Linked DNA regions of Homo sapiens. The protein of the gene in region 1 interacts with the protein of each later gene in a biochemical or structural test. Each region holds a gene or a part of one and is shown on either strand. Other genes may lie near its edges.

Evidence for each region. Proteins that work in one complex are often made in the same cells at the same time.
Region 2: the proteins of TNKS (region 1) and TNKS1BP1 form a complex in vitro, tested with the Homo sapiens proteins (2 studies listed by BioGRID).

The regions. Positions count from the first base shown.
Region 1 is NC_000008.11:9,551,797-9,558,911, reverse strand, and holds the start of TNKS (poly [ADP-ribose] polymerase tankyrase-1), read right to left. Parts: upstream 3,001-7,115; 5' UTR 2,973-3,000; coding exon 2,300-2,972; intron 1-2,299.
Region 2 is NC_000011.10:57,300,907-57,307,952, forward strand, and holds part of TNKS1BP1 (182 kDa tankyrase-1-binding protein), read right to left. Parts: intron 2,190-7,046; coding exon of another isoform or gene 2,063-2,189; exon of another isoform or gene 1,959-2,062; intron 1,920-1,958; coding exon 1,553-1,919; intron 1,319-1,552; coding exon 1,168-1,318; intron 1,038-1,167; coding exon 901-1,037; intron 136-900; coding exon 1-135.

The DNA of each region.
Region 1 (7,115 bases):
TGATAAAGAAGACTAAAGTTTAATAAAACTTTAATGTTACGAATTCAATCACGGAAGCGTGGCAAACTGACTACAGGACATTATGTTTTCATATCGAGAATTTTATTACTGTGTTTTCCACAACTGAGCTAAAAACTTTCTTAAAAAGCCAATTCAAGGTTAGCTTGTCATAACTACAACATAATTACGGTACTGTTTGATTGTTTATCTTCTAGCTTATCTGGATATACATAAAACTCTGAAACAGAATAACAAGTAACTATTGTGGCAAATAGAAGACACGTGATTTGAGAAACAAGCACTATTTTGTGTGACTTATCCTAAATACATTAATACACATAAATATAACTATCATTTATTGGTGATTACGCATAAAGTGGGATGGTGAGAAATGACATGATTTGTGACGCAATTTGTTAAAATAGGCAAACTTGGAATAAAGTATGCAAAAGTAGACACCTCTGTTGATTAATAAAATCAGACTTAGGCCTTTCATTTAGCCTAAGGAAAAAGAAATGCTATTTCATCTAAAACAAGCAAGACCCTTGAGCAAACAAATAGGCAAAAGTCTGTTTCTGATTCAATTCACTGCATTCCTAATAAGTAGTGTCTGTATATCAATAATGAATCCAGTGACCTAACAATGATTTCCTTTAAGTGTTTCTCATACCACTGGTCACGACCCATTAATGGATCACAAGCAGCATTTGCTAAAAATGAAACAGAATAAAATATAAAATATCAGAGGACAACACATGTATTAAGGGAAAGTATTGTTTCCAGAAACTTTTGATTCAGTTGCGTATGTGACAATGTAAAATGTATTTCTAAGTATGGGCTACAATAAAAAACATGTGAAAGCTACTCTCTTGCATATAAGCCCCTCCGCATTACTACTTCTCCCAAAAATTGGGAACTCTACACTTCAATTACTCACAAAAATGAAAAGTGACCTTAATCCAGGGTTCTGACAGTTTAAGTTTGATTTCACAAGCTCTAAAATCAAACTGCCTGAATTCAAACTCAATTTCCACTATTTCCTGACTGAATTTGGACTTATTTAAGCGATCGATATATGCTTCACTTTTGTCATCTGTAAAATGGTTAATCATATCTCCCAAGTGTGGTAAAAATAAATACTACAGTGGGTCAACACATGTTTTACTGTTAACAGAACAAACTGAAGAAGTGATATATATATATATTAGAAATATAGGAGAAACTTAACAGAAGTTATCTCTGGTGTGTTATCTCTGATGTTTCTGTGTGATGCCTTTCATTTTGTATTTTTCTGTCCTATTTGAATTGTATAACGTACAATATATGTATTTCCAATATAATGTTTCTAATGTATAAAACATTATTACCTACATTTTTAAAATATCAACAATAGGTATCCAGGCAGTGAGATTATGGTCCTTTGTTTTTATTTTACAGTTCTCTTTATTTTATAAACATATTATTAGGTGTCTTTGAGAGAAAATCATCAACTACTTGCAAAAAAAAAAAAAAAGACAAGTGTGGGGTCCAGAGCTTAAGAAATTCACACTTTTTGAGGGAGAACTTTGTGCCAGATACTTCTCACCAAATGCTCGCACAACATCATTTTATGATTTTTGCCCATGAGAAAACTGAGGCAACTGACACGAGGTAAATGGTCTGCTAGACAACAAATAATAGTGGCCACAACATCAAAGCCTATATTTCTTCCATCATCATATAATGCATCCAAATATTCTTCTCCAGTTGTTTCACATTGGCATATTTTGGTCTCCCCGTCTAGACTGCAAACTTCTTTAGAAGAAGGGAAACTTTCAAACACTTCATTTATGTCTTTCATTGGGTTATTAAGGCTACAATAGATCCTCAAACATGTGTTGGGTTGTATTAAACCTCTTTTGGTCTGGACTGTCCTCAAAGGACATACCCTTGTAAAAACAAAATAAACTAGCACACAAACGACAAAACTACTCTAAAGCTGTCCAAATCTAACTGTATTCCTGCACACCAAAAACTAAAGTGTAAATATATCCATATGCAGAGACTACCAACTACAGTGAGTTTTGTAATGAGTACTGTGCAACCACTGAAGAATTCCTTGGATTCACTTATCCCCCCCAACCACGCCCCCATCACCCAGGCACCACCAAAAGAAAGGAACCTCCAGTCTTCTGGTGAGGTGATGAAGAACCATAACCACGCCCCCACTTTGTCCCATCACAATAACCTGTTTTCTTGTCCTAACCGGACCCTGCACCCAAACCCATAACCCTTAATAAACAATTCAAAAGTCTCTGACCTGCAGCGAAGTGCAGGGGAGAAGACTTCCGGCCGGCCATGTCCTTTGCATTTACGTTTGCCGCGTCCACCAGCCTCTTTACCCGGGACACGTCCCCATTGCGACAGGCCTCCAGCAGTTCCCGTAGGGCCCCGCTCACTGCTGGGACCCCTGTCCCAGGTCCTGCTGCCCCAGGCCCCAGTGGTGCTGTGCTGCTAACTCCGGCCGCCTCGGGGCTCTCCGCCAAGCTCGATCCAGGGGAGGATGGAGAGGAAGATGAGGAAGAAGTCGGGGAAGAAGAGGACGACGGTGAATTGTTACTGCCACTGCCGGCTGGGTTGGGAGCGACCCCAGCGGCAGATGAAGTAGAAACCGCTGGGACCACGGGAGCGGCGGCGACGGTACAGATTGTGCTGGTGGTACTGCAACAGCTGGTACCGTCAACCGGGTCCGGGGATCGGGGCCTGTCGGGCGGATCCCGACTGCCATCCCCCTCCGGCAGCGCTAGGCCGTGCCGCGGGGAGGCGAAGGGGGCCAGGCCGCTGGCCGTGGGAGAGGCTGGGGTGGTCCCCGGGGCCAGGCCAGGGCTGAGTGGGGGAGGAGGTGGCGGCGGCGGCGCTGAAGCCCCTGGGGCGGGCTGGAGCTGTTGTTGATGATGGTGGTGATGATGCTGAGAGCGACGCGACGCCGCCATCTTCGGACTCCCCTAGCACTGTCACTGCGGCAACGGCCCCCACCGCCCGCCCTCACTTCCGACTGTCGGACCAATCAGCATCCAGCGCACAGGAAATGATGCTAGGCGGGGTAGCAGGGGCCAAAGAGAAGGAGGGAAGTATTGGGAGCTCAGAGAACAGCCAAGGGAACGGGGCGGGGCTTTGTCACTGAGAGGCGGGCTTTGTGACGTGGTGGCGGGCCGGCTGGAGAGATTTGAATGCTGGAACCAGCTTCTGCCTAGATGGGAAACATTTCCTGCATTTCTCACTTTCAGTCGGCTTTCTTTGCCCTGCTCCGCTCTGTTTCCCTTAGTCTCCCTTTGCTTGCTCCAGAGCCAGCTGTTGAGATGCAGATCAGAGCAAGCAGGGAATGTGTCCGTTATCATCTATTAAGCGTCCTTGTCTGAAAAATGGAACTTATAGTACCAACCTCACAGAATTATTAGCGGGATTAAAAGAGCTAACAGACAAAGCGCTCTGCCAGTAAAACACAAGTATAATTAGCCCGTTGGTAATTTTTTAAATTATAGTATTTCTTTTCCAGGTGTCCCCTTGAGCTCTTGTCCCTTCCCTATAATTTTTCTCACCCTATGTGCTTTAATTCCTCGTTTTTAAATGCTGGTTCAGATTGCTAGGATTGGCGTTCCAGCTCTGCCATTTGTTGTTTATATATGTACTTGCTATTTCATCACTCTATGCCTGTTTTTCTCTGTAAAATTGAAATAACAATAGTGCAATAAGTGTGAATTATTAAAATTATGATTTTTTTTTCCTATTCTGCTCTCTCTGAAATTTTATTTTTCACCCTAAGTGTAACTAATTATGAATATATTCCTTTCTTTTGAATTCTGGCTTAGCTTAGCCTCTCCCACACCCGAAACAGATAAAAACCTGATTGCTAGGCTGGTCACGGTGGCTCATGCCTGTAATCCTAGCACTTTGGGAGGCCGAGGCCGGCGGGCCACTTGAGCCCGGGAGTTCAAGATCAGCCTGGCCATCACGGCGAAGCTCCATCTCTACAAAAAATACACAGATTAGCTGGGCAAAGTGGCACATGCGTGTAGTCCCAGCTACTCAGGAGTCTGTTGGGAGGATCACTTGAGCCCGGGAGGCAGAGGTTGCTGTGAGCCGAGGTCACACCACTGCACTCCAGCCTGGGTGACAGAGGGCGGAGACCCTGTCACAAAAACAACAAGAAAACATAACAAAAACCTGATTGCTGTCCATTACTCACCATCAGGTGCTATTTTTCAGCAACTGCTTTTTCTGTCTTTCCCCCAACCTATGTATACTTTTGTTTTTCTACTATCAAAAGATGTATCCATGAATGAGATAATCCCATTGAGGACTCCATTTCATACCTACTGTTCAATAGTAAAGCAGGCATTGTAGAAGTATACAGAAACAGCATTATTCCAATAGAGTGGACACAGATGGAAATTCTGTAAGAGAAACAAGATTTAGATGAGTCAAGCAGAATATTAAACTAGGTGATAAATTGTTTCATGTGTTCATTGTTAAATATGATTTATGTGATGTTAATATTCCCATTTAAGTAAATAGATGAGTTTATTTGGGGTTAGTAAGTAAATACAATAAGGTCAGGAACATAATTAGTATTACGAGTGGCATTTATTTTCATCTAATCTGGGGTTACAGATTATAATTCTTAACATTATCCAGCTGTGTGATGAAATGTGCCATTGTTCGCAGTAGACACCGGACAAAAAGTGTAGCTGGATAGGAAAACTCACATCAGTGCAACTAAAATCAGTCCACAACATTCTTCTTCATGCTTCTGTTTTTTAATCTTAACTTCTTGATGTACAGCAGAGAACCATTGAGAAGTGGGAGTGATCCAACATGATATGTTAGATATCCATAACACACCATGTGTCCCCTAAATAATGGCCTCCTGGAATGGGAGGCATAAGAAATATCTCATCTGGTCTCCCAGTGGTCAGTTACTCATAGAAAGTAGTGATGTTCAGACTTATTCAAAATGCATCTGTTGTGTCTATCAGTACAAAAAATAATAATAACAATAAAATAAGGAAGTCTCTGCTGGACAGAGATTTTTAAAAACTAAATTGCCGGCCAGGCCCAGTAGCTCACACCTGTAATCCCAGCACTTTGGGAGGCCAAGGTGGGCAGATCACGAGGTCAGGAGTTCCAGACCAGCCTGGCCAACATGAGGAAACCCCATCTCTACTAAAAATACAAAAATTAGTTGGGCGTGGTGGTGCGCGCCTGTAATCCCAGCTACTGCGGAGGCTGAGGCAGGAGGATGGCTTGAACCCAGGAGGCAGAGGTTGCAGTGAGCCGAAATCGTGCCACTGCACTCCAGCCTGGGTGGCAGAGCAACATTGTCTCAGCAAAACAAACAAACAAACAAAAAACAAAAAACTAAATTGCCTGAAACTGGACTGGAAAACCATGTCTGGAAATGCATTCAATCAACTGGAAATTGCTTTCTTCCCCTCGAGCAGAAAGTAGGAAAAGTACTTAACATTAAGTATTTATGAAGTTTGGGTTTATACCGACTAATGTTGAGCTCCAAACATGAAAGGACACATGCTATTACCTAATCTTCTGTGGCTAAACACAATTCCAGGAGGAATGCACTATATCATAGTGGAAAGAGCAAAGCTTGGGGTCAAACAAACCTGGGCTTGAAAGTCACATCTCTGATGATTACTAGTTGGCTAATCTTGATAGGTATGCTTCAGCTCTCTCAGCCTAAAATGTTGACCTTAGTTTAGCACTGTCATGAGGATTAAAAGCCTAGGTGTTTTTTAAGCACTCTTTGAATGTTAGATCCGTTCTCTTACATGGCATGCATAAAGTGTTAACATGAACTCACAGCCACTATTGATAGCTTTCCCCTCGCAACTTCCTTTGTGACAAAGATAGGGGCTGGGAATAAATATCCATCGTTTTACACAGAATGGGAATCTAAAGCAAAGAAACATTAGGTTTAATTCTTTCCTTATCTGATAATTCAGGATTCTTTATAAACTCTGTCTCTAAACTATTGTTGATCACAGGTGTGTAGTATCTTATTTTCATAAGCGTTTTCACAAAAACAATATCCTGGCCGAGTACAGTGGCTCACACTTATAATCCCAGCATTTTGGGAAGCTGAGGCAGGAGAATGCTTGATCCCAAAAAATCAAGATCAAAGATCAGCCTGGGCAACAAAGTGAGACCCTGTCTACACACACACACACACACACACACACACACAAAGTATACCCAAGTACTACAAAAATGGGAGCACATAGCACTCTCTTAGGCTATACTGTTGACACAAAAGAAAAGCCACCAACTCAAAGGACACCGATCTTTTGGGCTGTGTTCTGATGTTTGCTTTCTTACCCTATGGGGTTCGCATGGACACTCTGAAAATTACACAATCATGAACTTGCACAAGTTCCATATTTCAACTGGAATTGGTGTGTCATTCCATCCATATACTTCCCATTGATCTCCCACCGTATTTGGTATTCTGGTAGTATTTCTACTAAGTCTAGTTATTCTTCGATCCCCTCTGCAATGCCTCCTCCGCAAATCCACGAGCACAAGCCAGAGCTGTGGTTTGGCTGAGGCATGTCATTTCCTCATTTTTGGTCTTACCGAAACATAATAAGTTATTTTTATGTCAGAAATGTCTATGGTGCCAAGGGCCCAGATTTCTCTATAAAAGTGTTGCGTTCTCTTAGTTGAAGTTCCATCCAGAAACCCAGGTGAATATTTTTTTACAAAACCACAGATGGGCAATGATGCCAACAGCTGCAATCGTACTAACAACATTGTATCAGAAAAAGCTTTACCAAAAAAAAAACAGGTAAAACAACTTATTACAAGACAGCAAAATTACAGTAATTTAAAGATATCCTCTGTATCAGTTTCTTAGCAACTCTCCCATTAAAGTTTTAGTAGCTTTATAAGATAGCTCTTACATACCAGGGTCTTCTGGCTGCTGCTCCAAAGACATCTGTAGCCTGCACTGAGATAACTTGGATTTTTTCTGGCTATGGTCTGTACGCTCATGGGTAGTCGGTTTAATTTGAAGTGTTAGTTCCAGGCAGAGAGTTAGTTCCGGGCAGAGAGGTGGTTAAAGG
Region 2 (7,046 bases), on another chromosome or scaffold:
AGGTAACGTGAGGGGCTTTCCCAGTCCTGGGACCTTGCAGGATTTCGAACGCTGGACCGCGGACTCCTTCTGGCTCGACTTGCTCTCAGCCAGCTCTCCCTCCTCAGCTGAGCGATTCCGGGGGCGCAGCTTGGCCTGAGAAGCAAGTCCAGAAGCAGATAGATAGTAGAGGGACAGGCAGTAGGACTCTCAGGGGGTAAGACCTTATCTCAAGAGTGTGCAGTCCCCAGAATCAAGCAGAGACCCCTCTGCAGTCCTTTCACCCCAAAGGATGGGAAGTCACTTAGAGATGCACTTCCCGCAGAACTGAGCTATGCCTTGCACACCTTTCTGTCCTCAAAAACATATGGCAGGATTGAATTCAGACAAACTGGGTGGGACAAAGCCAGTGGTGACTTCCCACCCCTGTTCCCTCTGCCTGCAATGCCACCCCACCATCCCAGCTCCAGGAGCCAACTCCTGTGCCTGCCGCCGGCTAAGATCAAATACATACAAGAGGCCTTCTCCAATCCACCCTCCCTTCCCATCCCCCTCCACTCTGCTGTTAGGAAATAACTCCTCTCTCTCTGAACAGGCCCAGCCCTTATCTGTGCCTCTCCTCAGGGACACCTAAACTTCTTCTCTCATCCAGGCTAATTATGGGCATCATGTCTCCCACTGCCCCTGAGGTTCCAGAATAAGAACACATCTTGTTCTTCTTTCCATCCCATTTGGCACACAGCATAGGGCCCGGCGGGGCACAAAGGGATCTTCTGGAGCCCTCGATGGAGAGGAGAGTGAGAGGAGGAATGGGAGAGGGGGACAGGGGAATGAATTGATGGATGAAGAGAAGAAAGACAGCATGCAAGGTGGCCACCTGGCCAGATGGCTGGACATGTTTGCTTAATGATCAGATGGTACCTTCAGGGCTGAGGGGCTCAGGCCAGGAAAGAGGTTGACTTTCAGCCCCTTGGTGCCCAACGACATCCGTGTCCGGCGGCTCTGAGGTTCCTCCACTACCTCTTCATCTGAAGATGGCACCCGAGATGCCCGTGGCTCTGCAAAGGCCCGGGAAAGGGGCTCAGAAAAGGCAGCACACCCAGACTCCCCGAACCCATAACCCCTGCAAAAGCTTGGCCTAATGCCCTAGAGATCAAGAGACATCACCAAATAATACATCAGCCCTACCTGTAGAGTCCTGGAACAGGTGTGCATCCGAGTCTGCTGCCTCCGACAGGCCCAAGGTACCCCCAGGCCGAATGACCGGGGCCCGGTGCCCACGCTTGCGCCCCAAGTTGGCACGGCTCCGATACATGGCACTGTCGAGGATCTCGGTGTCCTGCTTGGGGCAATGGTGACACCACTGCCATTGCTGCCTCATCCCACGGGAGCCCCTCAACAGTAGCTGACCAGGAGCTGGACCCCTCCTGCAGCCGGAGCTTCACGTTCACGTGACGCACCTACAACCCGCTTTCTGCCTCCTGGACTGGGACTGCTCAGGGAAGCTCCAGGAATGGGGCTCTCGCTGCATCGCCCTCACCCACCCACTGTCATGGGCTCACCCTCCACTGACCTCAATGAAGGAGAAGTCCTGACTGGGGGATCTGGCAGGAGGGCCTTGGGAGGGTCGCCGAGAAGTCTGTGCTGGCCCCTGATCGCTCCACCTGGCTGCTGAAGAGCCCCAGGTGCCATCCACGTCTTCTGTCTGGCTGGCCTCACCATCAGGCTGCGGCCTCCAGGAGGGTGGAGAGTCCCTGCCAGGCTCCAGCACCTCCTCTTGGGCAGCACCTGCCCCGGCTCCTTCCTCCTCCAACAGGCCCCCAAGGCCCGAGGCCGCTGACTCCCTCCGAGCCACCGCCTTGGAGCTGCTGGCTGCCAGCATCTCCTCCAGCAGGCCCTGGGAGCCGGAGGGTGGGGGGCGGGCCGGGCACCTGCCAGGGCTGTAAAGGGGACAGAGAGAGAACGAGATCATCGTAAGGCCCCATCTCCCTGCCCTGAAGCCTACTTCACAAGCTCCTTCCCCCAGCCCCCAAACTCTCCCTTGCCCTCCTTCCCATGCTTTTTCCAGACTCCAAGGACACGGTCAGGGCCTTGAGCAACACAGCACACAGGTGAAGAGCTGAGCCAGTCTGGCAGGTTCAAATCCCTGAGACCTCGGGTGAGCCCCCTCCCCTGGAAACAGCTCAGGCTCCTCTAACTGCACGGAGTCGCTGCAAGGATGAAAGAAAAATCTAAAGCACTTAGCACAGTCCTGGTCAGCACGCACCGCAGAAGCAGCAGCCATTATTCCTGCTGCTGTTGCATGCTAGCAATGTGTTCCCTCCCAGGGCCACGTGCTCGGGCAGTCACACTCCTTGGGGTGAGCCAGGTACTGGCCCACCTGCCTCTCCGGACTCATGTTGTCTTCAGCCCCCACGTTATGCCTCTTCATTCCCCAGGCTCACAGAGCAACCAGGGACCATCAGAAGACACCCGGCCCTCACATGCTGCTGGCTTTGAACGAGCTGCTCCCTCTTCTGGAAAGCTCCCCGCACCACACCGTCCCTGGTGGTACTGTCCCCTTGGTTCAATTCTGCTTCCGAAGCTGCCCTGCCCCCTCCCAGCCACCATGGCCGCCTCAGCCCTACCAGCCCTGGGCTCCAATCCATGCCAGTTCCTGCTTCTTTCCTGTGGTTCTTTGTCCCCATAGCCTGTCGGTGAGCTCCTCAAGGGCAAAAACGGGGCCCTTTCTGCCTTTATGCCCCCAGCACCTGACCCAGAGCCTGGCTACGCGCCGGACTAAGCAAATGTTTGCCAAGCAAATGAGGGGCTGGGTCACCTTGGACCTCCATGCAGCATATGCATCTTCTGTCTGCTGCTTCCTCAAAACACAATACAGCTGGACATGGGGTGCAGGGCTCACGCCTGTAATTCCAGCTACTTGGGAGGCCAGGGCAGGGGGATCACGTGAGCCCAGGAGTTCAAGACCAGCCTGGGCAACATAGCAAGACCCCATCTAAAAACAAAATACAAACACGGCACAAGCACACCACACACTCTCTCACTAACTCATACTGCCCGCCCTGTCCAGCGGCCACTCCCCAAAATGACACATTCACATTCATCACCATCACACACACTCAGGCAGAGAGCTTGTGCGCTGTTTGTCACTCCCCCAGATGGACCTCGCACCCACCACATCTACAGGCACGGCACAGAGCCACACCTGACACAAACACACGCATCCCCGCATCCCCACACCCCCACCCCACACACACACACTCATACTACGCACAGAGGTGTGGGAAAGCCTGGCACGGCAGTGCCTGGAAGCCAGGCCCCAGGTTCCCACTGGGATTAAAGCAGGAGGAGAGTGGGGCAGGTGAGTCAATACCAAGCAGGAAGAGGGGGCAGGGAGAGAGAGCATGAGTGGTAGTCTGTCCTTCCACAAGCTGCTGACAGATGGAAATTAAAGTGGTCTGGGGAGAGACATTGGGGGAGGAGGCAGTGGCGGCAGCAGAAGTACAGCAAGGCAGCAGAATTGGGAGCAGCCCTGGCTGGGGGCCAAAGCCAGCTCACCCTGACAGCCAGCTTAAAATCAGGGAGAATTTGGAGGGAGGGGGTGGCAACAGCACCCCACCCAGACTACAGAGGCCAGGCCCAAAGCCTCTCCCTGGGGTGGGGCAAAAGAAGGCTAAGGGCAGGCCCCATGAGCTAAAGAGATGTGAAATGCCCTGGCTCACGCCTGTAATCCCAGCACTTTGGGAGGCCAAAACAGGCGGATCACCTGAGGTCAGGAGTTCCAGACCAGCCTGGACAACATGGTGAAACTCTGTTTCTACTAAAAATACAAAAATTAGCCAGGCATGGTGGCAGGCACCTGTAATCCCAGCTTCTTGGGGGAGACTGAGGCAGGAGAATCGCTTGAACCCGGGTGGTGGAGGTTGCAGTGAGCCAAGACCGCGCCACTGCACTCCAGCCCAGGCAACAAGAGCAAAACTCCGTCTCAAAAAAAAAAAAAAAAAAAAAAATCCACTCCTAAAGCGAGAGGTGGCCCAAGCCACTCAGGCAGAGGTCAGTGAGCTCTGGAGGTGGCCTTGAGGAGCAGAGAGTGGCGAGTGGGGAAAACCCAAGAAAGTGCAGCTACGTCCACCCCGCCGGACTAAACCCCACTCGCCCTTCACCCCATCTTAGAAGCAGCTTTCCTACCCCTAAGCACCCAGATCATGTATAAGCTGAGCCCCTCCCGGCATGGGAGCAGGAAAGAGGGGTAGTTAGGAACACAGGGACTGAGTCCTGCCACTCCAGGACACAGCTAGGCTCTGTCTCCTCCTATGCCTGTGGCTTTGACCACAAGTTATTTGTCCCACTCTGAACCTCAGTTTATCTGTAAAATGGGGATAATAAAAGTACATAAACTGTTCTAGTTTGTTGGCAGAAATATGTGCCTAACACATAGTTAGCACTTGACAAATACAACAAATTATTAGGATAGTCATTATCATCCTCAACACGGGTCCCTGGCCAGAGAGGATGTGCCTCATCTTGTCGCATCTACACCCTTCACCTGGTCTAAACTTTAGAGTACCCTGAGGACCAAGACGGTATCCCACCCCACCCTCCACCACTGCTCCAGAGGCAAACATGGCGCTGGAACTACAAAACGTGAATATCCCAGTGTTCTGAGACCTGAAATGAGGGAGGGGTGAAGCTGGAAAGATGTGTCTAGAGAAATAGCAGCTGACCTTGACCCCAGAGAGACAGGGAGGGTGCCCAGAGAAGACTGCACGGCTTGGGCCCAGGGAGACAAGAAGAACCCACAGCCACCAGCCGTGGGAACCGGTGCAAGTCACACTGCCTCTCTGGGTCTCAGTTTCCCTAGTTTTTGTGAGGAACAATTAACAAAACCCCATGAGTACTGGGAGTAAGTTACTCCCAACTTACAGACGAGGAATCGGAGGCCCGCAGAAGAGAACAAACTTGCCCAAGGTCACAGAGGTGGTGACAGAATCAGAACGCAAGCCTGGCAGATGGACCCAGAGCCAGACCCCTCTGAGCTATTCTCAAGGACTTCTCGTTACAAAGGGAACCTCCAAAATTTTCTTTAAAGAGAAAGTGCCCATAGTGGGCCAGGCATGGTGGCTCATGCCTGTAATCCCAGCACTTTGGGAGGCCGAGGTGGGTGGATCACCTGAGGTCTGTCTGGAGTTCAAGACCAGCCTGGCCAACATGGTGAAACCCCATCTCTGCTAAAAATACAAAAATTAGCCGGGCGTGGTGATGTGCGCCTGTATTCCCAGCTACTCAGGAGGCTGAGGCAGGAGAATCGCTTGAACCCAGAAGGCAGAGGTTGCAGTGAGCCAAGATCGCACCACTGCACTTCAGGCTGGGAGCCTGGGCGATAGACCAAGACTCCGTTTCAAAAAAAAAAAGAGAAAGTGCCCATAGTGTAGAATTTCCCTACATCAGAATTTCCCTGCTCAGAACACTAGGTTCTTGGACATTAGCCAAATTAGCTTGGAAAATACTGCATTACTTGTCTTTAAGGTACTAATATATGCTAATATACAGACTAAGTCTTCTGTACGGCCACAGAGTACCCAGCATTTTCCAAACATATTCACAGACTGGTATTCTTTAGGACACATTTTAGAAAAGGCTGCCCGAAAGCATAAAATTCAAACAAGCCCCTCGAACTCCTCTCTAAAGCAACTGTTTTCGTTCGGCTTTTTGAGGAGCCGTGCTTTCTGTTAGGAGCCACGCTTTCTGTTGCATACAATGAGGCTCACCTGTATGGCATCACGGCTAACCCCTGAACTCGGGTTAAAGTCAACACTGGCCAGATTACGGTAACACAACCACAAAAGCCTGGGTGTTTTAAAGACACAATGATGACACTATCCTCCTCTTCCCCTAACCTAGTCCCATCACAATCCCCGCCCCACCTCCCTCCATCCTAAACTAAGGGAACAAGATGATCACTTTCCACTTCTTAAGAGCCACCCCACACAGAACGGAAAGGCAGAGAGCTGTGGTGGTGGGGGGGGGGGTTGGGTGGGAGGGGGGCAGTGGTCCCACAGTGGCCACACCTGAAAGCAGTTAACATATACAAGTGAGAAAGAGGTACTCCTGACTCTTTGCCCTTAAGGGGTCACACCACCTTTCGACCCTCCAGCGGAGAGGATAAAAATCACTTTCCTGCTTCACAGAGCAGCTGTGAAGATCAATGAGGTAAGACGTGTGGTTAAGCATGGGGTGTGCAAAGTTCTATGAGTCCCAGGAAGAGAAATCAGGAACAACCACGCCAAGCCTGGACTCTCCCCTGCACCAAGAACATTAAAGCTGGAACTCTGCACTTCCTGAGTCAAACCCTGAGAAACTGAGGCTCAGAGCCCAGCAACCTGCCCAGGACCACAAGGGCCTCCCAACTCCTAGTCCTGCGCCCTCCCCTCGTCCCTGCAGTCCTCAATGCAGCCTCAGTGGTTCCCTGTGCTCCGTCACCACCCCGTCAACAGCCTGAGTCGTCAGGAAGCTCCACTTCCTCAAATCCCCCTGGGCATCTCACTGGGCCCATCTTCCTCTCTCCCTTCTCCTCCTCCATCCCAAATGCCTCTCCAGAGTCCCCAAGACCACCATGATATGCTCTAGCCCCTTCCTGCTCCTCTCCTCCCACCACCAACCCCTTCCACTTATAAAAGCCCCTGCCCCACACTTCCCTTGCCTTCCCCACATACCCAGTGAGAAGCTCCCACTGTGGGGCTGGAAAAGGTAACATTTTCTGCTCACTAAAGGGAATAAAAGCGAATCTCAATGGATGGAAATGTTAACAAAACGGATGCAATGCCTTTTTAGCACGTTTCTCAGCTGCAAAACCATCTCAGCTGGTTTTAAAACATCCATGAAACAGACTGTGCTTGCCTTGCAAAGCCTTTGGAAAGTTCTTTCAGCAAATTTGCACAGAGGCCAAGGTCATGGGGCCAGGTCCCCATACCCTTCAGGTTCTTGAACTTGCTATTCCAGGCTTCAAGACAGGACAGGCAAGAAGCACCAAGTACCTAACCTCTTTGAGAACCCGTGGGTTCCACTGT